4 linked regions of the Homo sapiens genome follow. The protein of the gene in region 1 interacts with the protein of each later gene in a biochemical or structural test. Each region holds a gene or a part of one and is shown in the gene's direction. Other genes may lie near its edges. The genes, in order: SERPINF2, PLG, KLK13 and CFD.

Region 1 (7,024 bases):
CATCCTGTCACCCCTGAGTGTGGCCCTGGCGCTGTCTCACCTGGCACTAGGTACCCTGGCACCACTTGTCCAGACCAAGAGAGCTGGGAGGCCAGTAGGAACTCAGTACTCCAATGGTTCTCCGCGGGCGGTTCCTCCACCAGGGTCACGTGGCTGTTTGGTAAAAATGCAGATTCCTAGGCCGGGGCGGTGGCTCACGCCTGTAATCCCAACACTTTGGGAGGCTGAGGCGGGTGGATCACGAGGTCAGGAGTTCAAGACCAGCCTGGCCAACATGGTGAAACTCTCTCTACTAAAAATACAAAAAATTTAGCTGTGCGTGGTGGTGCGCACCTGTAATTCCAGCTACTCAGGAGGCTGAGGCAGAGAACTGTTTGAACCTGGGAGTTGGAGGTTACAGTGAGCCGAGATGGCGCCACTGCACTCCAGCCTGGGTGACAGAGCAAGATTCCGTCTCAAACAACAACAACAACAAATGCAGATTCCTGGGCCCCCACCCATCTGTCTATGTGAATCAGATCTCAGGGACTGGGCCGGGGAATCTGCTTATTTACAAGTCCTCCTGGTGATTTTTTTTTTTTTTTTGAGACAGAGTCTTGCTCTGTCACCCAGGCTAGAGTGCAGTGGTGTGATCTCAGCTCACTGCAACCTCTGTCTCCCAGGTTCAAGCAATTCTCCTGCCTCAGCCTCCCAAATAGCTGGGATCACAGGCACCAGCCACCATGCACAGCTGATTTTTGTATTTTTAGTAGAGACGGGGTTTCACCATGTTGGCCAGGGTGGTCTCGAACTCTCGACCTAAGGTGATCAACCTGCCTCAGCCTCCCAAAGTGCTGGGATTACAGGCGTGAGCCACCGCGCCCGGCCCCTCCTGGTGATTCTTATGCAAGAGTTTGCTAGCTACACTCTTTCCCACTGTGCTGGAGGGTCTCACTGTGGGAAACGGAAGCCCAGAGAGGGAAGGTAACTTGTGGGGGGTGAGGTCACCCAGCCTGTCAGCCACAGGGGTGAGAGCCACGCAGAACAGATCCGTGGCTGTGGAAGGATGGCGTGTGGTCCCGTGGACGTCCTCGTCACGGGTATCCAGGAGGGACTGGAGTGGGCAGTGGGGGTGAGAAAGGACCCGCAGCCGGGCCTCAGCCTGTGCGGTGCCCTCCAGGTGCTCAGAACCACACGTTGCAGAGGCTGCAACAGGTGCTGCACGCAGGCTCAGGGCCCTGCCTCCCCCATCTGCTGAGCCGCCTCTGCCAGGACCTGGGCCCCGGCGCGTTCCGACTGGCTGCCAGGATGTACCTGCAGAAAGGTAGGCGCTGATGGCAGGGAGCTCCCTCAGTCCTGCCCTGGGTGGAGGAGGGTGAGAGCAAGGGGCTGGGCCTCTGGTAGCGAGTAGGGGCGTGTCTGGCTGTGGAGCCTGGAGCCCTGGGAACAGCTTGTGCTGCCTCCGTGCAGGATTTCCCATCAAAGAAGATTTCCTGGAACAATCCGAACAGCTATTTGGGGCAAAGCCCGTGAGCCTGACGGGAAAGCAGGAAGATGACCTGGCAAACATCAACCAATGGGTGAAGGAGGCCACGGAGGGGAAGATTCAGGAATTCCTCTCTGGGCTGCCGGAAGACACCGTGTTGCTTCTCCTCAACGCCATCCACTTCCAGGGTGCGCTCCTCCTCCTCTCAGATCCCCCACCCTGTAGGCTGAGCTGGGACGTGCAGGCCTTTTTGTTTTTTGAGACAAGTCTCGCTCTGTCACCCAGGGTGGAGCGCAGTGGCGCGATCTCGGCTCCCTGCAACCTCCGCCTCCCGGATTGAAGCGATTCTCCTGGCTCAGCCTCCCCAGTAGCTGGGATTACAGGCATCTGCCACCACACCCAGCTAATTTTTGTATTTTAGTAGAGACAGGGTTTCACCATGTTGGCCAGGCTGGCCTTGAACTCCTGACCTCAGGTGATCCACCCACCTCGGCCTCCCAAAGTGCTGGGATTACAGGCGTGAGCCACCGCGCCCGGCCATGCAGGCTTTGTTCTGAGGGTCTCCTTTCTTCCTCAGTCTGGGCCATGAGGCAGGAGGCTGTCTGGGTGTGGTGGGGATGGGTGCCCAGGAGCCAGATGAGTTGTTCTAGAGTGAATACCCTGGGAACAAATGGTCTGAAAAGATCCAGGAGGGGCTGGGCGCGGTGGCTCACGCCTGTAATCCCAACACTTTGGGAGGCCGAGGCGGGCAGATCATGAGGTCAGGAGATGGAGACCATCCTGGCTAACACGGTGAAACCCCCGTCTCTGCTAAAAATACAAAAAAATTAGCTGGGCGTAGTGGCGGGCACCTGTAGTCCCAGCTACTCGGGAGGCTGAGGCAGGAGAATGGCGTGAGCCCGGGAGGCGGTGGAGCTTGCAGTGAGCGGAGGTCGTGCCACTGCACTCCAGCCTGGGCGACAGAGCGAGACTCCGTCTAAAAAAAAAAAAAAAGATCCAGGAGGAGGTTCCTAGGAGAATTGCAGGGGTTGGGGAAAACACAAGCCCAGATTTCAAAAATGCTACGGGAAAGAGACCTTAGATCAATTGGATGCCAGCTAGCATTCCCTGGGGTCTTGGCCTCCACCGCTGTCTCATCCTTGAATGGATTCTGGGTGGGACAGGCAACGGGCTGGGGGTGCAGAGCCCAAGCTGGTCCCCATCGACGTGACCCCTGCCCTCTGCCCCAAGCTGGTCCCCGTCGACGTGACCCCTGCCCTCTGCTGGGTTTCAGGTTTCTGGAGGAACAAGTTTGACCCGAGCCTTACCCAGAGAGACTCCTTCCACCTGGACGAGCAGTTCACGGTGCCCGTGGAAATGATGCAGGCCCGCACGTACCCGCTGCGCTGGTTCTTGCTGGAGCAGCCTGAGATCCAGGTCACCCTTGGTTGTCCAGCAGGCTGGGCCTGAGGCTGGGAGGTGGGGAAGGGAGTGGACAGGCTGTGGAGCAGGCACAGGGATGGGTGGAGGCTGTCTCGCCTTCCTTGCCTCCACGTCCCCTAGGCAGGCAACTGCAAAAGGTCCCATGATCCCCCATCCTACCTGGCAGGAGGACTGAGGCTCCAGGCTCTTTGAGGTTTAGTAATTCAGTGAAAATATACTGGGCATTTGCTGTGTTCCAGATACTGTTCTAAGCACTAGGGTTTTTGTGGAGCATGAGGGAGGCCAGGTCTCTGCTCTTAGGAAGGAGGATACACAGTGCAACAGTGAATGGACATCAACACAGGAATTCCAGACGCTGGGAAGCGCTGTGGAGGGAAAGCTGAAAAAGAAGGTGATTTTGGCCGGGAGCGGTGGCTCACGCCTGTAATCCCAGCACTTTGGGTGGCCCAGGCAGGTGGATCATAAGGTCAGGAGTTTGAGACCAGCCTGGCCAAGATTTGAAACCCCGTTTCTACTAAAAATACAAAAATTAGCCAGGCGTGGTGGCAGGTGCCTGTAATCCCAGCTACTCCAGAGGCTGAGGCAGGAGAATCACTTGAACCCAGGAGGGAAAGGTTGCAGTGAGCTGTGATTTTGAGGTCAGGAGTTCGAGACCAGCCTGACCAACATAGCAAAGCCCCGTCTCTACTAAAAATACAAAAATTAGCCAGCCATGGTGGCGGGCGCCTGTAATCCCAGATACTCTGGAGGCTGAGGCAGGAGAATCACTTGAACCCGGGAGACGGAGGCTGCAGTGGGCTGAGATCGCACCACTGCACTCCAGCCTGGGAGACAGATTGAGACTCCGACTCAGAAAAAACAAAGGCTGGCCTTGAACTCCTGACCTCAGGTCATCTGCCCACCTCGGCCTCCCTAAGTGCTGGGATTACGGGCATGAGCCACCAGGCCTGGCCTTATTTAGGCATTTTAGAGTGGTAAGGGAGAATTCTGTGAGGAGGGGGCATTGAATTGAGACTCAGGTGACCGTTGTTGATAAGGGTTTATTACAAGGGCCCATGGACTTTGGGGCAGCACAGGGACCACCCCACGGCCATGTAGCCACTCAGGGTCTCTGCAGCCCCCAGCCTGGGAGATTCCACGGGGCGCTCACACAGTGCTCCTTAGAAAGGAGGATCTGATTGGATTGGATTTCTCAGCATCTTGCGTGGAACATTCTGATTGGATAAACTTCTTTTTTTTTTTTTTGAGACAGAGTCTTGCTCTGTCACCCAGGCTGGAGTGCAGTGGCACGATCTCGGCTCACTGCAGCCTCTGCCTCCTGGGTTCAAGCCACTCTCCTGCCTCAACCTCTCGAGTAGCTGGAACTACAGGCATGCACCACCACGCCTGGCTAATTTTGTTCGTTTGTTTGTTTGTTTTTGAGACGGAGTTTCTCTCTATCGCCCAGACTGGAGTGCAGTGGTGCAATCTCGGTTCACTGCAATCTCTACCTCCCGGGTTCAAGGGATTCTCCTGCCTCAGCCTCCCGAGTAGCTTGGACTACAGGCGCCCGCCACCATGCCCAGCTAATTTTTGTATTTTTAGTAGAGACGGGGTTTCACCATATTGGCCAGGATGGTCTCAATCTCCTGACCTCGTGATCCGCCTGCCTCAGCCTCCCAACGTGCTGGGATTACAGGTGTGAGCCACCGTGCCCGGCCAATTTTTGTATTTTTTTTTTTTAGTAGAGACAGGTTTCACCATGTTGGCCAGGCTGATCTCAAACTCCTGACCTCAAGTGATCCGCCCGCCTTGGCCTCCCAAAGTGCTGGGATTATAGGCAGGAGCCACTGCGCCCAGCTCTGATTGGATAAAATTCCGTGCCAGGCTGTCTCAGGTGTGGCCTCTCTTGCTTCTAGCCTAAATGTGGTCCCCTTGGCCTGGGTATTGATCCCCGGGCCAGACAGCTGTGGCTGAGATGGCTGTATTTGTTAGCTTCCCAAGGCAAGTGTGACACAGAGCACAGCCACTTCTGCAGGGAGGAGCCAGAAGCCACTTGGGCAGCCCTCCTGGGAGGGGGCTGTGGGTGAGGCTGGCCCGGGAACGCGTCCTGGCTTCCCTGCAGCTCATTCTGAAAGGCCAGTCTGATCCACCTCCCCGAGGCTCCCCTTTCCTGCTTCCCCTTTCCTCCAGGCTGTGTCCTGCGTACTCTTCCTTCATCCTTCGTCTCCTTTCCTTAGGCCCCGTCAGCCTTTCTTGTCCTCAGGCCCTCTGCAGACAGGCCCAAACAGCCAGAACCCGGGGCTTATCCTCCCACGGGCAGGGGTTCTCCACACGGGTACTCTGCCTGGAACCCAAGGAGTCACAGCTGCAGGAGGCCCTCGAGCCCTGTGGTGTCCACACTGCTTTTGCTGCAGAATCCCTTCAAATCAAATCTTAATGGCTGGGCACGGTGGCTCACGCCTGTAATCCCAGCACTGTGGGAGGCTGAGGCAGGTGGATCACCTGAGGTCTGGAGTTTGAGACCAGCCTGGCCCACATGGTGAAACCCCGTCTCTACTAAAAATACATCAATTGGCCAGGTGAGATGGTGAGCGCCTGTAGTCCCAGCTACTCGGGAGGCTGAGGCAGGAGAATCACTTGAACCCGGGTGGCAGAGGTTGCAGTGAGCCAAGATCATGCCACTGCACTCCAGCCTGGACAATAAGAGTGAAACTCTGTCTTGAAAAAAAAAAAAAAAGAGGCTGGGTGTGGTTTACAGGCTCATGCCTGTAATCCCAGCACTTTGGGAGGCCAAGGCAGGTGGATCACGAGGTCAGGAGATTGAGACCATCCTGGCTAACACGGTGAAACCCCATCTCTTCTAAAAATACAAAAAATTAGCCGGGCGTAGTGGCGGGCACCTGTAATCCCAGCTACTCGGGAGGCTGAGGCAGAAGAATGGCGTGAATCCACGAGGCGGAGGTTGCGGTGAGCCGAGATTGCGCCACTGCACTCCAGCCTGGGCGACAGTGCGAGACTCCAACTCAAAAGAAAAGAAAAAAAAAGAAATCTTAAGCCAAATCACAATATATTTACACAGCTGGCAAAGTCACAAGAGGGAGGTGTGGGAGGGTGGGGCGGGCAGCACTCGGCAGTGGCTCACCCACAGAACCCAGCTGTGGTATGACAGCCAGTGACCCTGTCTGTGGTACATCTGGAGAAGCTGAGACAAAGACAGGCGATTCCTTACGCCGGGTCACACGGCCAGCTGGTAGCCGGTGAAGAGAGAAAACCACCAGGTATTATTGAGCACCGTCTGTGACAGCGGACACTGCTACAATGTTGTTTTTTTTCTTTTTTTGAGACGGATTTTTACTCCTGTCCCCCAGGCTGGAGTGCAGTGGCTTGATCTTGGCTCATGGCAACCTCTGCCTCCCGGGTTCAAGCAATTCTCCTGCCTCAGCCTCCCGAGTTGCTGCGATTACAAGCGCCCGTCACCACAGAAGCCCAGCTCATTTTTGTATTTTTAGTAGAGATGAGGTTTTGCCATGTTGGTCAGGCTGGTCTTGAACTCCTGACCTCAGGTGATCTGCCTGCCTCGGCCTCCCAAAGTGCTAGGATTACAGGCGTGAGCCCCCATGCCCGGCCACACTGCTAGAAACTTTAAAAGCATCTCATTCGGTTACGTGTCCGCCTGCAGTGGGACAGGTAGTATGACTCCACCCCACTGTGAGGAAGTGGAGGAGCAGTGGGGTCAGTCACACGCCTGGCAGGATGGCCAGGAGCCCCATTGTCTGCCTTAGGAGCACCTGCTGGCCCCACCCCCACTTAGCTTCGGGGCTTTCTGTCCTCATGCTCTTCCCTTCCCTTTTCTGTAGGTGGCTCATTTCCCCTTTAAGAACAACATGAGCTTTGTGGTCCTTGTACCCACCCACTTTGAATGGAACGTGTCCCAGGTACTGGCCAACCTGAGTTGGGACACCCTGCACCCACCTCTGGTGTGGGAGAGGCCCACCAAGGTCCGGCTGCCTAAGCTGTATCTGAAACACCAAATGGACCTGGTGGCCACCCTCAGCCAGCTGGGTAAGGAGGAGGGTGCGGGCGAGCCCCCGAGGTCAGGCTGGGCAGGGCGGGTAAGGAGGAAGCGTCTGGCTGGCAGTGGAGCTGAGTCAGAGC
Region 2 (7,024 bases), on another chromosome or scaffold:
AGCTACCAAAGCTCAGCCAGATGTCTGGAAGAGCCTCAGGACAAGGGGACACCCTGTAGCCTTGTGGTGGGAGCACAGCTGAGGCCCCCTTGGCCACCCTCTGCCACGACCAGGCAGAAAGCAGCTTTCGGACAGATTCGTTGTCTCAGATTTGATCTCAAAGAAAAACCAAGACCAGTATTTGTCCCAGGTCCTGCTTTTTTACAATTTCCTCCGAAATCCAGATACCTGTCAACACCTTGGAAAAACTGACTTCTCCCCAATTAGTAGTGTTGTGTGACTGTCATAAGCCCAGTACAAAAATGGCCTTCTTTGTTGGGGAGCTTCTTACCCTCCAGTGTTTTGCCCAATTTTTGTCCAAGGTGGCAACATAATTTAGTTCAGTTCTTGTTTATTTCCACCATCATCTATGCACCAAAATTTATGTTTCTCAAGGAGGGACCATTCAGAGGATGCTTCCCACCGGTTCAAGTGACAGTGCCAGAACCAAAGCGCATATTGTAGGAAATCAAACAATGGCCTCCAAGTTCCATTTCTACCCAGGGATGAACAAATCAACATCAATCTTGGTAACACAACTGCCACTGATGGTGCCTTACTCTTCTCTCATGACATGGCACAATCAATAGCAAACATAAAATTTGTTCTTGTTTAAGGATTTATATCCACTAATATGGTAACATAGTAGTGGTTCCATAGTTCTAACCTGTTTGTCAATCCAGTTAATCTTTTACTATCTTGCAATCTGCTAATGAAACTGTTTTTCTTTGTTTTATAATTTCAACTTTTAGAGTCAGGGGTACATGTGCAGGTGTGTTACATAACTAAATTGCGTGACACTGAGCTTTGGGGTACAAATGATCCCATCACCCAGGTAGTGAGCTAAATACCTACTAAATAGGTAGTTTTTCAGCCCTTGCCTTGCTCCCTCTCTCCCTTCTCTGGTAGTCCCCAGTGTCTTTAGTTGCCATCTTTATTTATGTCCAAATGCCCGACTGTGTGTTCTTAACTAAACATTTTGATTCATAGCTACCCATTCTACTTCCAGTAAACAGAAAGTTTTATTTGGTTAATGCTAACCAAATAGATTAAAAGGAAGTCATGACAATTAGACATTGACATTGATTTACTGACCATTTATTCCACTTGGATCTCCCACCTCTAGGTCAAGGAGAGCCTCTGGATGACTATGTGAATACCCAGGGGGCTTCACTGTTCAGTGTCACTAAGAAGCAGCTGGGAGCAGGAAGTATAGAAGAATGTGCAGCAAAATGTGAGGAGGACGAAGAATTCACCTGCAGGTATTTCCATTGTCGTTGCACCTACGCAGGAATCTGTAATTCAGATGGCAAGTAATTTACTCACAAATTTATTAATGATTTAAGAGGAAAGAGAAATTTATGGAGCCAGAGTTTGGAACTATATTTGCTCACAGTATGTGAAGCCATACTAACAGCTTCTTGTTAAGGTTTATTGGAGTCTTTGTTAGAAAAATACCCTCAAAGGAAGTTATTTGTTTTTACACCGGACACAAACATTAGCAGTTATTGTTCTGAGCTCCAGTTTTCAACATCATCATCAGTAAATGTTTGTTGAGGATCAGGTGAATGAAAGTGTCCTAGATAGATCTGAGCAATGACTTATAGCTACAAGATCCAGTGCCTGCCCTTTAGTATTTAAGGTGTAGTCAAAGAAACTGGATATAATGTTAAAAAAAAAAAAAAGACAGCCCAAGTGAGGTACAGGCATAATCAATGCATGCTCTACCCAGATCCAGAAGAAAGAACAGTGCCTAAGGTTGAGGCAGCTAGAGAAGGCTCAGGGAGGAGGTGGGAACTGAGCTGGGTTTGGAGTTGAGAGAGCTCTTGACAAGCACCAGGAAGGCAGGGGAAGATGCGGCCCTGCACCTTCTGAGGGGGACCATTAAGAGATGAAGTTGACTAAAGCAGAGACTTTGTGTAGGTGACGGGCTTGGGAAGGTAGCTATGGAATCCAGACTGAGCACCCATAGCAGGACCACGGGATGGAGATGGGAGGGGTCAGGGGCCAGGGTGGGGTGGAATGTGGAGCAGAGGTTCAGGGGAACTGATCAGAGTTGGGAGGTCATGGAGACGGACTATCTTGGCGAATGGGTTCAAAGCAACCAGAGTTGCTTCTTTCCAACCCAAAAACAAAAATTAAGAAGATGAGTGAAGAAGAAGTAAAGCAGTTGAAACAGGAAGAAAGGGAAAATTATGAGGGAGGGAAGGTAAGGGCAGATAAGATTTGCTGCCACGTTGGTGTATTTTGTTCAGTACTTCATCGATGCCATGCCCAAATAACTGAAAGAGGCAGCAATTCTGAGCTCTCTGGTCCCTCAAGATATTCAATGATCTTTAGCATGTCTCACTTATTAATAAACATTTGTTTTCTTTAAATAAAGAAAAATACTTATTGGATTTCCTGCTTCGTTCTGCAGGGCATTCCAATATCACAGTAAAGAGCAACAATGTGTGATAATGGCTGAAAACAGGAAGTCCTCCATAATCATTAGGATGAGAGATGTAGTTTTATTTGAAAAGAAAGGTGAGTACATTTTCTTCCTCCTCCTCCTACTGTCCTCCCCATCCTCCCACTCTTCCTCTTTCTCTATTCTATCTTTAATTTATAAGACCAGAGGAGGAAGGCACTATCGTGTTATAAAACTGAATTCTGAGTTAGGACAGGATTTGATTACTAACTAACCATGTCAGCTTGAGTGTATTACTTCACCTCTTAGATTTAATTTTTTTTGTTCAAAAGATGAAAGGATTAGATTTACAAAATCACTTCTACCTCTATGACCCTGAAAATAAGATTTTTAAAATATTATTTTATATTTAACAAGGAGATGGGAAGTCTAAGCATTCCTTTTGGTCTTGGCTTCTTATTCTGCAGGGTGACCATGGTCCTTGGGCCCTAACATCTGGATGAAGCCTTGTAAAACAGAAATACTGAGGTGTTTTAATCCTCAGAAACATTTAGATTGGGACACAAATCTTATTTTTACTCTTAAATTTTTCACATTTTGGGGGACATGGTCTATATTTTTCTCAGATTTCTGAAATGTTGTCTTTTAAAAATGTGTAAAAGTTACAGTTCCTTTTCTATAGTTTATTTTAAAATGTGGGTCAATAGTCCCACTGCTTAGAATAAGAGGCAGACAGGATTTCAATAGAAATTGCATGCCTTTTTAGATGTGCAAATGTTTCATTAAGCATTTCCCATCAAGTATATCCCATCAAGTATGCTCCCATTAAGCATATCCCATCAAGTATAAATATTTGAAGGGATGCATGACACTTTAAAAACTGTTTCCTCTACTGTGTTGGTAGCCAGGTATTAAGACTGTTAATAGTAACAATTTAGCTCTCCAAACATTCTGCATCCCAGGTGTTAAAGAGGACTGGAAACACCTTAGTTCTTGTATTCTTGAGGATGATTTGCCATATTGTGTCTAGTATTACGGCAAAACTCTAAGTAGCATTTTAAATAGTATTTATTTGGGTTGGAATTATTTCTATGCATTGACTCATCTTCCTGGGTTTCATTAGCTGTACGCATTGTACTTCCTTCCTTACCACTATTTATCTCGAATTCTTGAGATTAAAGTGCAGATTAAATCTAAACTTTATCTGGTGAAGTTATTAGTTCTTACAAGTAGCAAGCAAACGGTAAACTAAATAGGATCACCTAATTGTACCAGATTTTAAAAAAAAAAAACCCTGATTCTCCTGATTCTCTCTACAAAATGCTAACATTTAAATATGTCATTTGTAAATTGTTAACCAGAAGGAACATGGGAATGACTGTAGGTTGAGTTTGAAGTCTGAAGTTTGAAGGCTTAGTTTGCTTGTTTTCAAAGTGACAGAAGGGAGCAAAAGGTTATATAAACTCTGATGGGTACATACAAAAAAAAAAGAAGTGAAAAGTCAAAAGTCAGTCATTTTTTGGTCCTTGTTTCTTTGCTGTGGGATATTGACCTGCTACTAACTTACCTGCCAGGGTTTTGCCAGGAACAGTCAGTGTTAGATCACATTTACTTCTGCCACTTGCCACCAGCCACACTGCCTTCACCAAGTCCAAGACCCTATCACCACTGGTTGGGGCTACTTGTAGCTGTACACATGATCTCTAAGAAATGTAACTTCCCTGTTTAAAGCCCTTCCTAGTGCCCTTAAAATAAGACCCAAAGACTTCCCAAATGTGCTAGGGCCCAGCATTATTTAAGTAACCCCCAGCTGCTGTTTGCTTGGCTTGCTAAACTTTTCTACACTGGCCTTACTTCTGTTCCTTCACCACCCCAAGCACACACCCTCCTGCCTGGGACCCTCTTCACCTTTGTCCTGCTGTGCCAGCTCCTTCTTATCTCCTAGGTGTCAGCTCAATCATCATGTCCTTTGCAAATCTTCCTTGACCCCTAGACCTCCCTTTCACAAAGTACCTTGAGTTTACACTTTTGATGAGTGTCTTATGTCTACTGTAATACTATGTCCCAATGAAGATGTACTTGCAATCATAATACGCAGTATTGGGTTAAAAGCATTAGTTTGCTGTAGGTATGTTAGGAGCACTTTCCCCATGTGATTGATCAATTAATTAAAAAATGGCTAAAGTGGGTAACCTTAAATGATGGTGTAAATATACCTTAAACATTTTATATTTTCATTGAAAACACAAGTGTACTTGACACCTTTTGACGTAGAGCAGAGGCTTTTCTTCTTCGAATATGGGGTCACCAGTAGAAGGTCTCTGGTGTATTTCCTGCATAAACTATGCTCCAGTGCAACATCTACAATAATTACTTTCCTTATTTTTGAAGTGGACCATATCTCGACATTTATTAATCAATCTGAATGTGTAAAACCTTTAGATTTTTATGAATTCCTCCTCAAGCTTTATAGTCAACTATATGAGTGGATTGCCCTCTGTGGATTTGATAGCAATTTTTTAAATGATTCATGTTTCAACTTGTTAAAAACATTTAATTTAGTTAAAAACCAAACAAAAAAGAGCTTTGTTTCTTTTCACATTCATTTCTCAGTTTAGATCATCTTTAATTAAATATAAATGTAAGAAAGTTGGAAAATGCAAAGAAATGACTCGTTGTAAGCACATAACTCACGTGGGGGGAACAGACATGGGTGGGCACACTAGCAAACACCTGCCAGCTGCATGTGGACCCAGGTGGGCACCGGACTGTTTTAAACACAGGAGAGGGCCCGTTGTCTAACTGGTGAGTTGGTTGAGTGGAAGCTGGTTGAGAACTTTTACTGCAAACCATTTACAGTAGACCACAATTTTATAGCCCTGTTTGGCACTTTTTCATATCACTGGGAGCCTGAAGAAATAGAAGTGGGTTGGATCTCTTTCAGCCTCTGAAAAGCCTGCCATTCCCCCATCTAAAAAGCCCTTTCCCCATTCTCTCACTCTGTCTCATCATGTATGTAATATGTATCATCATTAAGTGATCTCATTTTATATTGTTTCCTTGAATATTTCCTGTAACCCCCCTGCCTGATTCCACTAGAATGTAAGCTCCATGACGGCCAAGCCTCTGGCTGCACTGTGCCCCGTGTGTCCCCAGCATCCTGGTGGGGCTCGATACACAGAGAGCTCATAAGTAGCATTTGAATACATGAATCAAAGAATGGCTCAGTTTACTGCAGCCTTTTTGCAGATGCAAAAGATGATCTTTTAGAAAGCAGAAACAGGGGGTCTGGTGCATGAGATCTTTTTCTCAACGTGACTATGCTGTGCAGACCTTCATGTGGTGTCTTGTGAAAGACTTTGACCACTGTGTGGACTTCCCTTCAGTGTATCTCTCAGAGTGCAAGACTGGGAATGGAAAGAACTACAGAGGGACGATGTCCAAAACAAAAAATGGCATCACCTGTCAAAAATGGAGTTCCACTTCTCCCCACAGACCTAGGTAAGACATTCCCTTTCATCTTTGTGTTCATCTACTGTAAAGTTGTCCCTCTGTGTCTGTGAGGGATTGGTTCCAGGACCCCTGTGGCTACCAAAATCCATGCTTCTCAAGTCCCTTATATAAAATGGTGCAGTATTTGCATATAACCTACATACCTTCTCTTGTATAATCCCTAATATAATGTAAATGCTATTTAATCGTTGTTATACTGTATTGTTTTTATTTGTATTATGTTTTATTGTCATATTGTTATTTTCTGTCATCTTTTTCAAGTCTTTTCCATCCACAGTTGGTTGAATTTGTGGATCTGGAACCCATGGATACAGAGGGCCAACTGTATTTAGGATAATTTCATCACTTTTAATTCAAACCACAATATGTGAATAAGCAGATAGAAAGAATCTTTTTGATGTCGATGTTCAACTATTTTTGGCACCATAGTAGAACATGGTTGCTTTCTATTTTTTCTTGGATATGGAGGTTTCTTGAAGACCTAGAACATAGAAGAATGCCTAGTTTAAAAAAAATCAATGAAACTATGAGTTTTAGGCCAAATCTGAGAAAAGATCAAAGATGACTATGTTTGGGACTGAAGTAAGCATATCAGGTTAGAACTCTCATCACATGTTCGACTCAAATTGTGGAGCAAAAGAGTAAATAAGATATAAAAATGAAAATGAAGATACGTGAAATTCAAATGTTGCAACTTGCCTATTATTTATTTTAGTGCATTTTTTTGTACTTTTCCCAGTTTGGTGTTAGGTGGCATTAAGTTCTCAGTAATGACGCTTATCAAATAGGAACTTAGTGCTTGTTACTCACCTTTATCCATTCCCCCAACACTCAACAAATTGCCTTTGCTATATCCCTATGAGATGAGCAGATCAAATATTCCCCGTGAGTTAATGAAAACTGATTCAACCAAATGGCAAAGTCAGAGACTATCGGGGGCCATGGAGACACTCTGGGCCATTTTTATGAGGTAGTCTAGGCTCATCTTTATGAGGGAACTGAGGTCTCGGGGGGTGGGGGTTATCCCAAATAGGTTCACAGAAGAACCAGAAATAAAACCTG
Region 3 (6,991 bases), on another chromosome or scaffold:
TTAGTTTTACTTCATTTTAATTAGTTTAAATTTAAATAGCCACATGTAGCTAGTGGCTACCATATTAAACAACATAGGTCTGGAGAAAGGACTGTGCAGAGAGAGGAAATAGCAAGTATAAAATGTCTAGTATGGGGGCATCCAAGATGATTTAAATTCTTCTTTTCTTTAAATGCCTGGTGTGTTTGAAGAACAGGCCCATGAGGCTGGACTAGAGGAAGTCAGAAGAAAGAGGTTGGAGATGGGGTCAAAGAGGCTGGCAAGGGCCAGACAGCACAGAGTCCTGCACACCTTGGGAAGGCTTTTTGGATTTTATTTTAAAGAAAGTTGAGCCTGGGAACAACATCTGACTTTCTTTGTTTGAAGAGTCCTCAGCCTACTTTGAGAAGACTGGATCGGAGGGATGTAAAAGTGGAAGGATTTAGGTTAATGTTGTAGTCATTTGGGCTACAGAAGATGGGGCATGGACCAAGATGGTGGCAGAAGTGTGGAGATAACTGGATATTTGGGAGATAAAACCAATAGGAACTGGTTGTGAGTGATGAAGGAAAGAAGAGAAGCAAAGATGACTCCCAGGTTTGGGGCTGAGCACTGAGGTGGGAAATACTGGAGCGAACAGTTTTGATTGAGAAGAATCAAGTTGGGAATACAAAGCTTAAGATGCCTGTAAGGCATCCAAATCAACAGTGTTTGAGTTTTGAGCTTAAAGAAGAGTTCAGGGCTGGAGATGATTAGCCTATAGCTGGTATTTAAAGCCATGGAGGCAACCAGTATATATGCAGTGAAAGGATAGAGAGATGGGTGGAAAGATGATTGGATGGATGCATGGATGGATATATGGATAGATGGATGGATGGATGGTTGGATTGGATGGATGGATGGATGGATGGATGGATGGATGGATGGATGGATGGATGAATAAATGGACCAGTGGATGGAGGGACAGATGAGTGGATGGATGGTTGGATGGATGGATGGATGGATGGATGGATAGATGGTTAGATGACTACCTAAATGGATGAATGGATAGATGGATGAGTAGACGGATGGACAAATCAATAGGATGAATGGGGGATGGATGATTGGATAGATTGATGGATAGATATTGCCTAGGTGGATGTGTAGGTCAGTCTCACTTCTACCTCCTGAAATCCATCTTCTGGTAGAATGATATAAAAAATGCATGTGGAGAGAAAGTCAGGCTCCTGCTTACCTATCAGCAACATCCTCATTTTGTGAACTCTTCTGTTAACCCCCAGTGGAGGATTTGGTACTTCCTGAGAAAATAATGTCACCCCTTTGCCCTAATTCATCTCCACTTGGTCAAGAATAGCAACTGCCATAGGTCGGCAAATTCATCTTCAGTTCCTGGTCACCCAGGGCAATAATCCGACCCTTACCCCAAACCCAGAAACCACAACCCCAGGGCTCCTCTGCCCCCTGGATCCCAGTTTTCTAACAATCTCTCTTCTTTACCAGGTGTCTCCCAGGAGTCTTCCAAGGTTCTCAACACCAATGGGACCAGTGGGTTTCTCCCAGGTGGCTACACCTGCTTCCCCCACTCTCAGCCCTGGCAGGCTGCCCTACTAGTGCAAGGGCGGCTACTCTGTGGGGGAGTCCTGGTCCACCCCAAATGGGTCCTCACTGCCGCACACTGTCTAAAGGAGTATGTGGGGGCCGGGGGAGCATGGGGTAGGGATGAGAATGGGACTGGGATTGTGGATGGGGTAGAGTTGGATTTGAGGATGGAGTTGGAGTTAGGGTTGGGGATGGACATGGGAGTGAGAATGAGGTTTGGGGTTGAGATATGGGGATTGGGTATGGGAATAGAATCAAAGTAGGGGATTTGGATGGGATTGAAGTTGAGGATGGGGGAGATGTATTTGGAGATGAGGAAGGTAGGATGGAGAAGAAGTTAGGTTGGGGATGGGAAGAGGTTGGGGCTGGGATGGGGATGGAAATGGGCTCATCTTCTTTCCTAACCACCTTCTTTCTGCACCCACAGGGGGCTCAAAGTTTACCTAGGCAAGCACGCCCTAGGGCGTGTGGAAGCTGGTGAGCAGGTGAGGGAAGTTGTCCACTCTATCCCCCACCCTGAATACCGGAGAAGCCCCACCCACCTGAACCACGACCATGACATCATGCTTCTGGAGCTGCAGTCCCCGGTCCAGCTCACAGGCTACATCCAAACCCTGCCCCTTTCCCACAACAACCGCCTAACCCCTGGCACCACCTGTCGGGTGTCTGGCTGGGGCACCACCACCAGCCCCCAGGGTATGCACCCACACAGGTGGCCTGAGGCCCCATAGGAGTGGCTGGGGAAACAGGGGCAGAGATGGGAGGGAAGGTCTGAGGTAGGTTCCTTTATATATAAAAATATAAATAAGTAAATAAATATATATATTTAAAGTTAGCTGTATCCTTTATATAAATATAAATTCATGAATATATAAAAATATGAGTATATAAATTCATGAATATATAGAAATATAAATAGATCTAATATATGAATATATTATATGATGTATATTATGTATTATATAGTAATATAATTATATATTATACAAAAAGTATACAAATTAAATGTATTTTATAAATTATAAAATTTATCAATTATGTATTTTAAATATGTATTTCTGCATAATGTATATATTATATATAATCTATATTTAAATTATATATTATAAATGTATTTTATAAATGTATACATTTATATATTTATATACTGTAAATGAATTTTATCATTTATAATATATAAATCATACATATAAAATGTTTATATTTCTATAATTTATAAAATGTTTAATATATTAAATATGGTTATTAATGAAATGTCTAATAATTCAATGTAATAATTAATTCTATATCATTACTTAGTAAGTATAATACATTATATATGTGAATATAAAGTTGATGTATATACCGACAAGAGCCCTTTGCATCTCCCTAGCAATCCCTGACTCTCTCCCAGCCTCATGTTTGTATCTTTCTCCTCAACATGCCCTGTCTCTCTTCCTACCATTCTATCCAACTCTCCCGTAACTCTTCCCATCCCTGTTCCTGCTTTTCCCATCTTTAATTCTCTATTTCTGACCATCTCCCTATTCCAACTCCCTCTCTCCAACTTTCTCTCCCCACCGCTGGCTCCACCACTCTCCTTATCAACCTTCCATTCTCTTGTCCCTTCCCTCCTTGTCCTTCCCTCCACTTTTCTCCTCATCTCTCCCTTCGCCTCTCTCCCATGTCCCTCCATATTTCTGTCACTTCCGTTGCTTTACCCAGATAGGTGCTCATCTCTTCTCCCATCTTTCTCTTCCCATCTCAATTTTCTATCTACTCTTTACCCATTCAACTCGCCTATTTCACCTTCATCCCATATCCTATCCAGGTCGGATACCTTAGACCTTCTCTTTCTTCTCCCCAGTGAATTACCCCAAAACTCTACAATGTGCCAACATCCAACTTCGCTCAGATGAGGAGTGTCGTCAAGTCTACCCAGGAAAGATCACTGACAACATGTTGTGTGCCGGCACAAAAGAGGGTGGCAAAGACTCCTGTGAGGTGAGGCCGGGAGGCTGGTGGGTGCCTTGGACAGGATAGAAAGCCAGAATGGAAGTGACAGATGCTGGGGAAAAAGCTTTGTTTCCAGCCTTAGGGGAACCAATCTTTATAAGATACAATGTCCCCTCACATAGGAGGTCAAGACAAAAAGGGGTACCCAGGGATGGCAGGAATAATTCATCATAAGCCCCAGCTTTGACTGAGTGGCTGCCAAGATCCCTGTGTTGAGATGCATAAAGGTTGGTATTCTTTCACTTGTGAGTGATAGACAACCAACTCAAACTGGCTTAAACAAAATGCAGGCTTTTGTAACTGAAAATCCAGGTTGTCTGGCTTTAGGCACAGATGGATCCAGGTATGCAAATTGTGTGTTTGGAATTCTGTCTTTCTTTTAACTCTCAGCTCTTCTTTATTCTGTTTTGGCTTCATTCTCGGTTAGATTCTTCCCATGACAAGATGGCCCCAGCAGCTTTGAGCTTACATCCTACCCTCTAGGCAACCCTATTAGAAAGAGAACCTCTCTTTTCCAATAGTTCACACAAAAGTCTTAAGCATGATTCTCACTAGGCTGACCTAAGTCATGTGTCTTGAGCCATCACTCCACCAGAGCTGTGGGATTCTCTGATGGGCCAAGCCTGAGTCACATAGTTAACTGTGGGTGCTGGAGAGGGGCAGGGACAAACTGCATGGATTGGAAGTGGAGAAGGGCAGTTCCCCAAATGAAAAAATCAGGAGAGGCTGTTACCAAAATAAGGGGAAATGGCCAAGTACAGTAGTTCATGCCTGTAATCCCAGCACTTTGGGAGGCTGAGGTGAGAGGATTACTTGAGCCCAGGAGTTTGAGACCAGCCTGGGCAACATAGTGAGACTCTGTCTCTACAAAAAGAAAAAAAAGTTTTTAAATTAGCCAGGTGTGGTGGAGTACAACTGCAGTCCTAGTTACTCGGGAGGCTGAGGCAGAAGGACTATTTGAACCCAGGAGTTCAAGGCTGCAGTGAGGTATGATCATGCCACTGCACTCCAGCCTGGGTGATAGAGCAAGGCCCTGTCTCTAAAACAAAAAGAAATAAATAGAGCAAGACACTGTCTCTAATAAATAAATAAATAAAAATTTAAAAATGAATGTTTAATTTTTTAAAAATAAGAGGAAATGGATACTACATGAGCAAAAAATAGCCTTCATCAATAAAGAAGTTGAGATTGGATTCAGTGAGAAAGAGTATGATACTATATTAATGATATGTGCCTTGATCGATTAGTGATGTCTGCCTTGGGCCCAGGAAGAGAAATAGACTTACACGTGTGTTGCATACCCTGCCCAGATATGAATGGGTTCACTCAATAGTGAGAGACACAAATGAGCCTTAAATAGGAGCAGGGTCAGCTGGTGTGGGGCAGGGGGTGATTTAGTACCAGGGAAACAAAAATGGGTATGAAGTAAGTTGTTACCATTTTAATGAAACTGAGGAACAGAGAAAAACACAGAAATTTCTCTGTGTCTCTCTTTCTCTGGGCCTATCTCTGTCTTTCTGTCCCTATTTCTGTCTCTTGCTGTCTGTCCCTCTGTGTTTGTCTTCTTGTCTGTTTCTCACTGTCTTCATTGCTTTCTCTCACACTGTGTGTGTCTGACTCTGCCTCTCTGAGTCTCCTTCTCTGTGTGTGTCTCTCTCCATCTTTCACTCTCTCCCCACACCTCCCTGTCCCTGCCTTGTTTAGCCCCAGCAAGGACCCACCTCTCTCTCTCTTTCTTTCCCCAACTCAGGGTGACTCTGGGGGCCCCCTGGTCTGTAACAGAACACTGTATGGCATCGTCTCCTGGGGAGACTTCCCATGTGGGCAACCTGACCGGCCTGGTGTCTACACCCGTGTCTCAAGATACGTCCTGTGGATCCGTGAAACAATCCGAAAATATGAAACCCAGCAGCAAAAATGGTTGAAGGGCCCACAATAAAAGTTGAGAAATGTACCGGCTTCCATCCTGTCACCATGACTTCCTCACATGGTCTGCTTAGCCCTTCTCTGCTCCTTATTCCCAGTGTTCCATTTGAACCAGTGATCCATGTCCTGAAAAATGCTCAATCTCAGCTAACATTCCATGTTTCAGAAGCATTCAGGCACTGCCAGGCTTGCAGTCTCCCAGATGTTGCATCCCTGAAACATCTCAACAACCTGAATGTCCCAACCCAGACAATGGCCCAGGTCTCTCAACTTCATCAGTGTGGCTTCTATGAGCCCAGATCACCACCTGAACGTTCTGTCTGTGGCACATTCTTAAATATTTCCATCAGCCCATCTCAACAATATATGTCCTATAAATGGACCATCCTTGACAACATCCTCTAACTCTTCAAGTATTTATTCAATGCCAGTATCCTAGACCTTCTATTTTTTGCACTCAAGAAGGCTCTAGACTCCCATGATAGTTCATCCTGAAAATATTCTCTTATGCCCACAATCTTCTGCCCTGACAACATTCTGTGTACCTCTGTGACTCACCACAGCTAACATTGGATCCTCAGAATATTTCATTCTCACACTGTTATGGGTGTCTCAGAAGTCCCAACCCAACCTACATCCCACATTCTTCCAATACCCCACCTCTGCCAACATTCCCTCTCTGAATCAATGGCACCCTAGTCTCTAGAGTTATAGGGTTCAGTATACCAAAGGGTCTTCTTGCCTGAACTTTATTGTCTACCAAATATTCCGTCTTGTATCCCCTCCATGAACATCCTTGGTCAGTGTCCCTTGCTGTTACATCTTTGTGCATGACCCTAAAATGTAGTGCAAATCCTTGCTTTGGACAAGTTATAAAACTCACAGTCTCTGTGCTTTCTCATCTGTAAAATGGGTTCATAATTTTTTTTAATTGTAACATTATTACAAGAATAAATGTCAAGCATTTATCACTATTATTATTTGCATGGTTCCCATAAAATATTACCTTAGAATGTTAATAACAGCCCTTCGAATTTGCAGAGTGTCCAAAAAAAGTGTTGCACTGATTTATTTTCCTCAGGAGACATTTCTTCAGTGTTGACTATGTGCAAGCACTCTCCTGGGTGTTGTTAAATATAGTTTATTTACTCAACAAATATTTGTACCTATCAAGAGCCAGGCACTGTTGCAGAGACAAGTGATAACCAATGAGTTAAACAGATAAAAACTTCTGCCCTTGTAGAACTTACATTCTTTTCAAGAAGTCTCCATAACAATGAATAAAGAAATAGGCTGTCAGGTGGTGCTGCAAGCCATAGCAAGAAATGAAACAAGGGCCATATGTGGTAGCTCATGCCTGTAATACCAACACTGGGAGGCCAAGGTGGGAGGATCGCTTGACACCAGGAGTTCAAGACCAGCCTGGACAACATAGCAAGATCCCATCTCTACAAAAAAGTTTAAAAAATTAGCTGGACATGGTGGCACAAGT
Region 4 (7,563 bases), on another chromosome or scaffold:
CCTCAGCCTCCCAAAATGCTGGGATTATAGGCGTGAGCCACCGCACCTGGCAATTTTTTTTTATTATTTTTGTAGACATGGGGCTTTGCCACATTGCCCAGGCTGGTCTTGAATGCCTGGCCTCAAGTGATCCTCCTGCCTCGCCCTCCCAAAGTGCTGGGCTTACAAGCATGAGCCACCGCGCCCGGCTGTAGTTTTTTTGTTAACTGAGCACCTACTGCTTCCTGCACTCAAGCCACATCCAGGGACAACCTCCAACGCCCTGAGCCTTGGTGACGGCTCCCACTCTACAGATGGGGAAACCGAGGCTTGCCTTGGGGAGCAGAGTGTGGGGTGGGTATCCTGCCCTGCAGGATCCCAGAACCACAGTGGAACCTGAGATGGGGAAACTGAGGCCCGGAGAGGGGAGGGTCATCATCACTGCCCCGTGTGACGCGCTGACGATCTGTCCCCACCGCCACAGCTCAACGGGTCGGCCACCATCAACGCCAACGTGCAGGTGGCCCAGCTGCCGGCTCAGGGACGCCGCCTGGGCAACGGGGTGCAGTGCCTGGCCATGGGCTGGGGCCTTCTGGGCAGGAACCGTGGGATCGCCAGCGTCCTGCAGGAGCTCAACGTGACGGTGGTGACGTCCCTCTGCCGTCGCAGCAACGTCTGCACTCTCGTGAGGGGCCGGCAGGCCGGCGTCTGTTTCGTACGTGCCCTGGGTGTCCCTCTGCTCCCCACCCGCTCCCAGCCCGGACTGCAGCAACAGGCACCGTGGCTAGACCCTAGGAGGGACTTCCCAACCCTGACAGGCGGCGGGCAGGTGGGCAGGGCCTCGCAGTCCAGCTTCCCCACCTTGTCTGCCTCCACAGGGGGACTCCGGCAGCCCCTTGGTCTGCAACGGGCTAATCCACGGAATTGCCTCCTTCGTCCGGGGAGGCTGCGCCTCAGGGCTCTACCCCGATGCCTTTGCCCCGGTGGCACAGTTTGTAAACTGGATCGACTCTATCATCCAACGCTCCGAGGACAACCCCTGTCCCCACCCCCGGGACCCGGACCCGGCCAGCAGGACCCACTGAGAAGGGCTGCCCGGGTCACCTCAGCTGCCCACACCCACACTCTCCAGCATCTGGCACAATAAACATTCTCTGTTTTGTAGAATGTGTTTGATGCTCCTTGGCTGTGTGATTGGGTGTTGAAAATGGTCAGTAGGTCGGGCGTGGTGGCTCACACCTGTAATCCCAGCACTTTGGGAGGTTGAGGCAGGCGGATCACTTGAGCTCAGGAGTTCAAGACCAGCCTGGGCAACATGGCAAAACCCCCGCTCCATTAAAAAAAAATAAATAAATAAAATAAAATAAAATAAAATGGTCCAAGCCTGGCCCAGTGGCTTACGCCTGCAATCCCAGCACTTTGGGAGGCCGAGGCTGGCAGATCACCTGAGGTCGGGAGTTCAAGACTAGTCTGCCAACGTGGTGAAACCCCATCTCTACTATAAATACAAAAAAAATTAGCTTGGCGTCGTGGCGCGTGGGAGGCTGAGGCAGGAGAATCGCTTGAACCTGCGAGGCGAAGGCTGTAGTGAGCCGAGATTACGCCACTGCACTCCAGCCTGGGCAACACAGAGAGACTCCGTCTCAAAAAAAAAAAAAAAAAAAAAAAATACCGGTGCGGTGGCTCGTGCCTGTAATCCCAGCTCTTTGGGAGGCCCAGGCAGGCGGATCATCTGAGGTCTAAAGTTCGAGACCAGCCTGACCAACATGGAGAAACCCCATATCTACTAAAAATACAAAATTAGCCGGGCGTGGTGGTGCATGCCTGTAATCCCAGCTACTCGGGAAGCCTGAGGCAGGAGAATCACCTGAATTCTGGAAGGTGGAGGTTGCAGTGAGCCAAGATCGCTCCATTGCACTCCAGCCTGGGCAACAAGAGCGAAACTCCATCTCAAAAATAAATAAATAAATAAATAAATAAATAAATAAATAAATAAATAAATATAAATAATAATGATAATAATAATAATAAACAACAAACTAGAATCCAGAGTCTCTTGGGCATCTCTGGAGTAAGCCACCACCAGGGGGCAGCACAGCCAGGGCAATGGAGCAGAAGTGACTTCCCCACATTGTGTTTTTTTCTTTTTTGTTTTTAGATGGAGTCTCGCTCTGTCGCCCAGGCTGGAGTGCAGTGGCGCGATCTCGGCTCACTGCAAGCTCCGCCTCCCGGGTTCACGCCATTCTCCTGCCTCAGCCTCCCGAGTAGCTGGGACTACAGGCGCCCGCCACCACGCCCGGCTCATTTTTTGTATTTTTAGTAGAGACGGGGTTTCACCGTGTTAGCCAGGATGGTCTCGATCTCCTGAACTCGTGATCCGCCCGCCTTGACCTCCCAAAGTGCTGGGATTACAGGCGTAGCCACCACGCCCAGCCCTGTTGTTATATCATTTTCTATTCTCTGTGCGTATGAAATAATCCACAGGGGGCCAGGCATGGTGGCTCATGCCTGTAATCCCAGCACTTTGGGAGGCCGAGGTGGGCGGATCACCTGAGGTCAGAGGTTCGAGACCAGCCTGGCCAACATGGCAAAACCCTGTCTCTACTAAAAATACAAAAAGTTAGCCCAGTGTGGTTGCTCATGCGTGTAATCCCAGCTACTCGGGAAGCTGAGGCAGTAGAATCGCTTGAACCCGGGAGGTGGAGGTCGCAGTGAGCCGAGATTGTGCCACTGCACTCCAGCCTGGACGACAGAGCAAGACTCTGTCGCAAAAAAAAAAAAAAAGCAAGAAAGAAAGAAAAAAAGAAGGAAAGAGAAAGAAAGAAAGAAAAAGAAAGGGAAAGAAAGAGAAAAACAGAGAAAGGAAGGAAGGAAATGAGGCTAGGCGTGGTGGCTCACACCTGTAATCTCAGCACTTTGGGAGGCCGAGGCAGGCGGATCACGAGGTCGGGAGATCGAGACCATCCTGGCTAACACGGTGAAACCCATCTCTACTAAAAATACAAAAAATTATCCGGGCGTGGTGGCGGACGCCTGTAGTCCCAGCTACTCCGGAGGCTGAGGCAGGAGAATGGTGTGAACCCGGGAGGCGGAGCTTGCAGTGAGCTGAGATCGCGCCACTGCACTCCAGCCTGGGCGACAGAGCGAGACTCCGTCTCAAAAAAAAAAAAAAAAAGGAAAGAAAAGAAAGAAATGATCCATGGTGAAGAGAAAAGCCGGGGGAACCTCGTGTGCTGCTCCCCCTGGGGACAATGTCTGAGGTCCTCCCCACAAGGTATCCCCATCCTTCTGGTCCCCGCACCATGGATTAATGCAACGTGAATCCCGCTGGCCCCTGTGGGGCAGATGTGAAAAATGGAGCTACACCATGAGCAGGCCTGCAGTCCCAGCACTTCTGGAGGCTGAGGTGGGAGGATCACTTGAGCCCCGGAGGTCGAGGAGGCTGCAGTGAGCTATGATTGCACCGCTGCACTCGAGCCTGGATGAAAGAGCAAGACCCTGTCTGTAATAAAACAAAAACAACACACACAAATCCCCACCTCACAAAAGGCCCTATGGCCCAGATTCTGAGAAGTATTTTATTTTAATTTTTTTGTAGAGATGGGGTCTCGCCGTCTTCCCCAAGCTGGCCTTGAATTCCTGGGCTCAAGAGATGCTCCTATCTGGGTCTCTCAATGTGCCGGGATGGTAGGTGGGAGCCACTGTGCCCGGCCAGCCCTGACTCTGTTCATCAGAACCTGCCCTCAGTGAACAGTTTGGGAGGGGGCGTGTGATCCAGGCTCCACCAACCCAAGGCACCCTTGAGACTTGGCTGGAGTGAGGAAGAATTTTAGGAGGGGCCCACTGAGCCACTGGGTTGAGTGTGGGGTCCCTGGAAACACACCAGGGGAGGCTGGTGAGGAAAGAAGCCATCAGAGAAGAAAGGAGAAGCCAGAAGCAGACACTGGACATTGTTCAGGCACCTGGATCAAGCCACACCTGAAGGCGGACATCCCTGAACTTTCCATATAACTTTCATGATTCAGGCTCCACCCAGTTTGTCTGGGTTTTCCTGTCCCTTGTAGCCAGTCTTCCCAGCTGCCTCTGCCTTGGCCTTTCCAACTTTCTATTCGTCAGGGTGTCAAGCCCCAGAGGCCACAGGGACAGAGACAAAGGTGTCAAGTGACCTTCCTACCCCCAACAGACCTTCTCTCTAATATAGAGGAGGAAAAGAAGGGAGGGTAGCAGGACAAGAAAGTGGGTTGTTTACACGCTGTGGCCTCCAGCTAGGATTGTGAAACACCCTGGGGGACTCTGGGTGTGGTGAAGTTGGGGCCGGGGTGGGTGCAGCCCCCCTCTCTGCCTCCTGCCCATCTGAGGGACTGCCCCCCACCAGGGCCAGCAGGCTGTCAGGCTCACAGAGGCCCGAGGGTCTCCCAGCGACTTGTCGACTCTGGTGTGAGTCTGGCAGGAGGTAACCCAGTCCCGGGGAGGGCGGAGGCTGGGCGGGCGAGTTCCCCTTTCCCCAGCTGGGCCGCTGCCCACCCGGGGAGCGGCCCGCCCCCTCCACCCTCATAAAAGCACCCCCAGGGCCCTGCCTGGGTCAGTGTCTCAGCCACAGCGGCTTCACCATGCACAGCTGGGAGCGCCTGGCAGTTCTGGTCCTCCTAGGAGCGGCCGCCTGCGGTGAGGAGGCCTGGGCCTGGGGTGAGGGACAGGGCTGTGTAGGGGCGTGGTGCTCCCTTCCGTCACACGGACGGTCCTCCAGCCCCTCCAGGTGGGCAGGAAGGGGGTGTCTCTCCTCACTAATGGAAGGCTCTGAACGCTGAAAAATTCTAGAAAATTCAGATTGGAAATCGGAACTTTCTGGAGTCAGCTTTTCTTGCAGACAGAGTCTGAACGTCTGCGTGGAAAACTTCATCTGCGTGGCTGACTGGGCTGGCCCAGGCACTGGCTGGGTCAGCCCCATTTCTCTTATGTCCAACTGGAAGGCACTGCGCCCAGGGTAGGGCGCTGGGATCTGCCCCCGGTCCCCAGCCCACTGTGGGTTCTGTACTCTGGGGCATTCCCGCCCGAGGGTATCTGAGTTTGCAACGCTGAGGGGCCCCAAGACGGAAACGGGATTCTTTTTTTTCTTTCTTTTTTTTTTTGATAGGGAGTCTCGCTCTGTCGTCCAGGCTGGAGTGCAGTGGTGCGATCTCGGCTCACTGCAAACTCCGACTCCCGGGTTCAAGCGATTCTCCTGCCTCAGCCTTCCGAATAGCTGAGATTATAGGCCACGCCGACTAAATTTTGTATTTTTTTTTAAAGTAGAGACGGGGTTTCACCATATTGGCCAGGCTGGTCTTGAACTCCTGACCTCATGATCTGCACCCCCCCCTCCCCCCCCGCCCCCGCGCGGCTTCACAAAGTGCTGGGATTACAGGCGTGAGCCACCGCGCCCAGAGATGGGATTCTTGCGGGGAGCGGCCTGGGGGGTGAGAGCTGGGATCCCGTCAGGCAGCCTCGCCCGGGGGAGGAGTCCACCCCGCGGCCCTCACGCGCCCGCCCACCCACAGCGGCGCCGCCCCGTGGTCGGATCCTGGGCGGCAGAGAGGCCGAGGCGCACGCGCGGCCCTACATGGCGTCGGTGCAGCTGAACGGCGCGCACCTGTGCGGCGGCGTCCTGGTGGCGGAGCAGTGGGTGCTGAGCGCGGCGCACTGCCTGGAGGACGCGTGAGTGCCCGCGCCGCGCGGGGGAAGAGCCCGGGTGCGGTGGGGGGAGTCGGCTGGCACCGACCGCGGACTCCGTCCGGTCCCCAGGGCCGACGGGAAGGTGCAGGTTCTCCTGGGCGCGCACTCCCTGTCGCAGCCGGAGCCCTCCAAGCGCCTGTACGACGTGCTCCGCGCAGTGCCCCACCCGGACAGCCAGCCCGACACCATCGACCACGACCTCCTGCTGCTACAGGTCGGCCCCGTGTAGCGCAGTCCCTCCTGCGGCGCTGGGATCCCCGGCCCACCCTCACTCCACCCCGCCTACACCGCGCCCCGGGTCCAGCCTCGACCTCTCCTGCTGCATGGGGACCCCGCCCCACAACCCCCACACCCTCACCCCGGGTCTAGCCTCGACCTCTCTTGCTGCGCTCGGAGCCCCCCCACCCTCTGCACCCTCACCCCGGGTCCAGCCTCGAACTCTCCTGCTGCATGGGGACCCCGCCCCACAACCCCCACACCCTCACCCCGGGTCTAGCCTCGACCTCTCTTGCTGCGCTCGGAGCCCCCCCACCCCCTGCACCCTCACCCCGGGTCCAGCCTCGACCTCTCCTGCTGCATGGGGACCCCGCCCTACAACCCCCGCACCCTCACCCCGGGTCTAGCCTCGACCTCTGCGGCTGCACTGGGAGCCCCCCACCCCCCGCTCCCCCTGCATCCCCATCCCGGTTCCAGCCTCGACCTTTGCAGCTGCACTGGTGAGCCTCGCACCCACCCCATCCCCACCTGCACCCCCACCCAGGGTCTAGCCTAAATCTCTCCTGCTGCACTGAGACCCACGCCCCTGCCCTGATGCCCACCTCCCCCGTCCCGTCTCCCCGAGCCTAGCGGCATTCTCCCCAGCCTCGCACCCCCGCACCCCAACCCTGACGTCCGCCTCCACCCTCAGCTGTCGGAGAAGGCCACACTGGGCCCTGCTGTGCGCCCCCTGCCCTGGCAGCGCGTGGACCGCGACGTGGCACCGGGAACTCTCTGCGACGTGGCCGGCTGGGGCATAGTCAACCACGCGGGCCGCCGCCCGGACAGCCTGCAGCACGTGCTCTTGCCAGTGCTGGACCGCGCCACCTGCAACCGGCGCACGCACCACGACGGCGCCATCACCGAGCGCTTGATGTGCGCGGAGAGCAATCGCCGGGACAGCTGCAAGGTGAGCCTTCAGGCCTGGGAGGAGACGCGGGGCCTGCAGGCCCCGGGAAGGGCCTGCAGAGGGAGCGCGAAGCGGGGGGCAAGTAGGAACAGGGCCCAGGGAAGGGGCGGGGCGCGTAGGGGGCGGGAACTGGAAGATGGGCGGAGCATGAGGGTGGCCCGTGGGCGGGGCCTGTATGAGGGGGCGGGGCATGTGGGTAGGGTGGGGCCTTGGGGGCGAGGCCTGGAGAAGGTACGGGGCCTCTGGAGAGGGTGGGGCTGAAGAAGGGTCAGGGCGGGCAGAAAGGGCAGGAACGGGTGGGATGTGGAAGGACCTGTGGGTTAGGGTGGGAATAGGGGGCGGGGCTCGAGGAGGGGGCGGAGTCCAGTAATAGCGGGACTGCAAGGGGGCGAGGCCAGGAAGAGGGTTGGGGCATGAGGGGCAGGGCATGGAGGAAGGGGCGGTACCTGTGGGGAGGGTGGGGCTGGAGAAGGGTCAGGGCGGGCAAAAGGGCAGGTGGCAGAGAAAGGGTGGGAGGTATAGGGGGCGGGCACGTGGAGGAAGGGGCGGGGCATGGGGACGGGGCGGGGCAGGTGGAAGGGGCGGGAACCTCTGAAGGGGCAGGGCTGGTGCGGAGCGGGATCCCTGCTGTGGCAGGGAAGAGAAGGGGTCCTGAGCAGGGCAGAGGTTTAAGACCAGCCGAGGCTTGCATGGTAGCCGGGGCCAAG

What was found.
Region 2: the proteins of SERPINF2 (region 1) and PLG form a complex in vitro, tested with the Homo sapiens proteins (2 studies listed by BioGRID, with this or other methods).
Region 3: the proteins of SERPINF2 (region 1) and KLK13 form a complex in vitro, tested with the Homo sapiens proteins (one study listed by BioGRID).
Region 4: the proteins of SERPINF2 (region 1) and CFD form a complex in vitro, tested with the Homo sapiens proteins (one study listed by BioGRID).

The regions. Positions count from the first base shown.
Region 1 is NC_000017.11:1,745,860-1,752,883, forward strand, and holds part of SERPINF2 (alpha-2-antiplasmin isoform a precursor), read left to right. Parts: coding exon 1-50; intron 51-1,159; coding exon 1,160-1,303; intron 1,304-1,449; coding exon 1,450-1,653; intron 1,654-2,738; coding exon 2,739-2,881; intron 2,882-6,726; coding exon 6,727-6,931; intron 6,932-7,024.
Region 2 is NC_000006.12:160,705,242-160,712,265, forward strand, and holds part of PLG (plasminogen isoform 1 precursor), read left to right. Parts: intron 1-1,165; coding exon 1,166-1,301; intron 1,302-2,458; coding exon 2,459-2,565; intron 2,566-5,835; coding exon 5,836-5,950; coding exon of another isoform or gene 5,951-5,954; exon of another isoform or gene 5,955-6,631; intron 6,632-7,024. UniProt on the Homo sapiens protein: Plasmin dissolves the fibrin of blood clots and acts as a proteolytic factor in a variety of other processes including embryonic development, tissue remodeling, tumor invasion, and inflammation. In ovulation, weakens the walls of the Graafian follicle.
Region 3 is NC_000019.10:51,055,108-51,062,098, reverse strand, and holds the end of KLK13 (kallikrein-13 isoform 1 precursor), read left to right. Parts: intron 1-1,479; coding exon 1,480-1,666; intron 1,667-2,005; coding exon 2,006-2,274; coding exon of another isoform or gene 2,275-2,309; exon of another isoform or gene 2,310-2,354; intron 2,355-3,424; coding exon 3,425-3,561; intron 3,562-5,323; coding exon 5,324-5,512; 3' UTR 5,513-6,473; downstream 6,474-6,991.
Region 4 is NC_000019.10:855,101-862,663, forward strand, and holds the start of CFD (complement factor D isoform 1 preproprotein), read left to right. Parts: upstream 1-4,563; 5' UTR 4,564-4,589; coding exon 4,590-4,644; coding exon of another isoform or gene 4,645-4,665; intron 4,666-5,516; coding exon 5,517-5,673; intron 5,674-5,760; coding exon 5,761-5,905; intron 5,906-6,598; coding exon 6,599-6,856; intron 6,857-7,563. Other genes in the region: ELANE (neutrophil elastase preproprotein), read left to right, coding at 464-694, 858-1,064.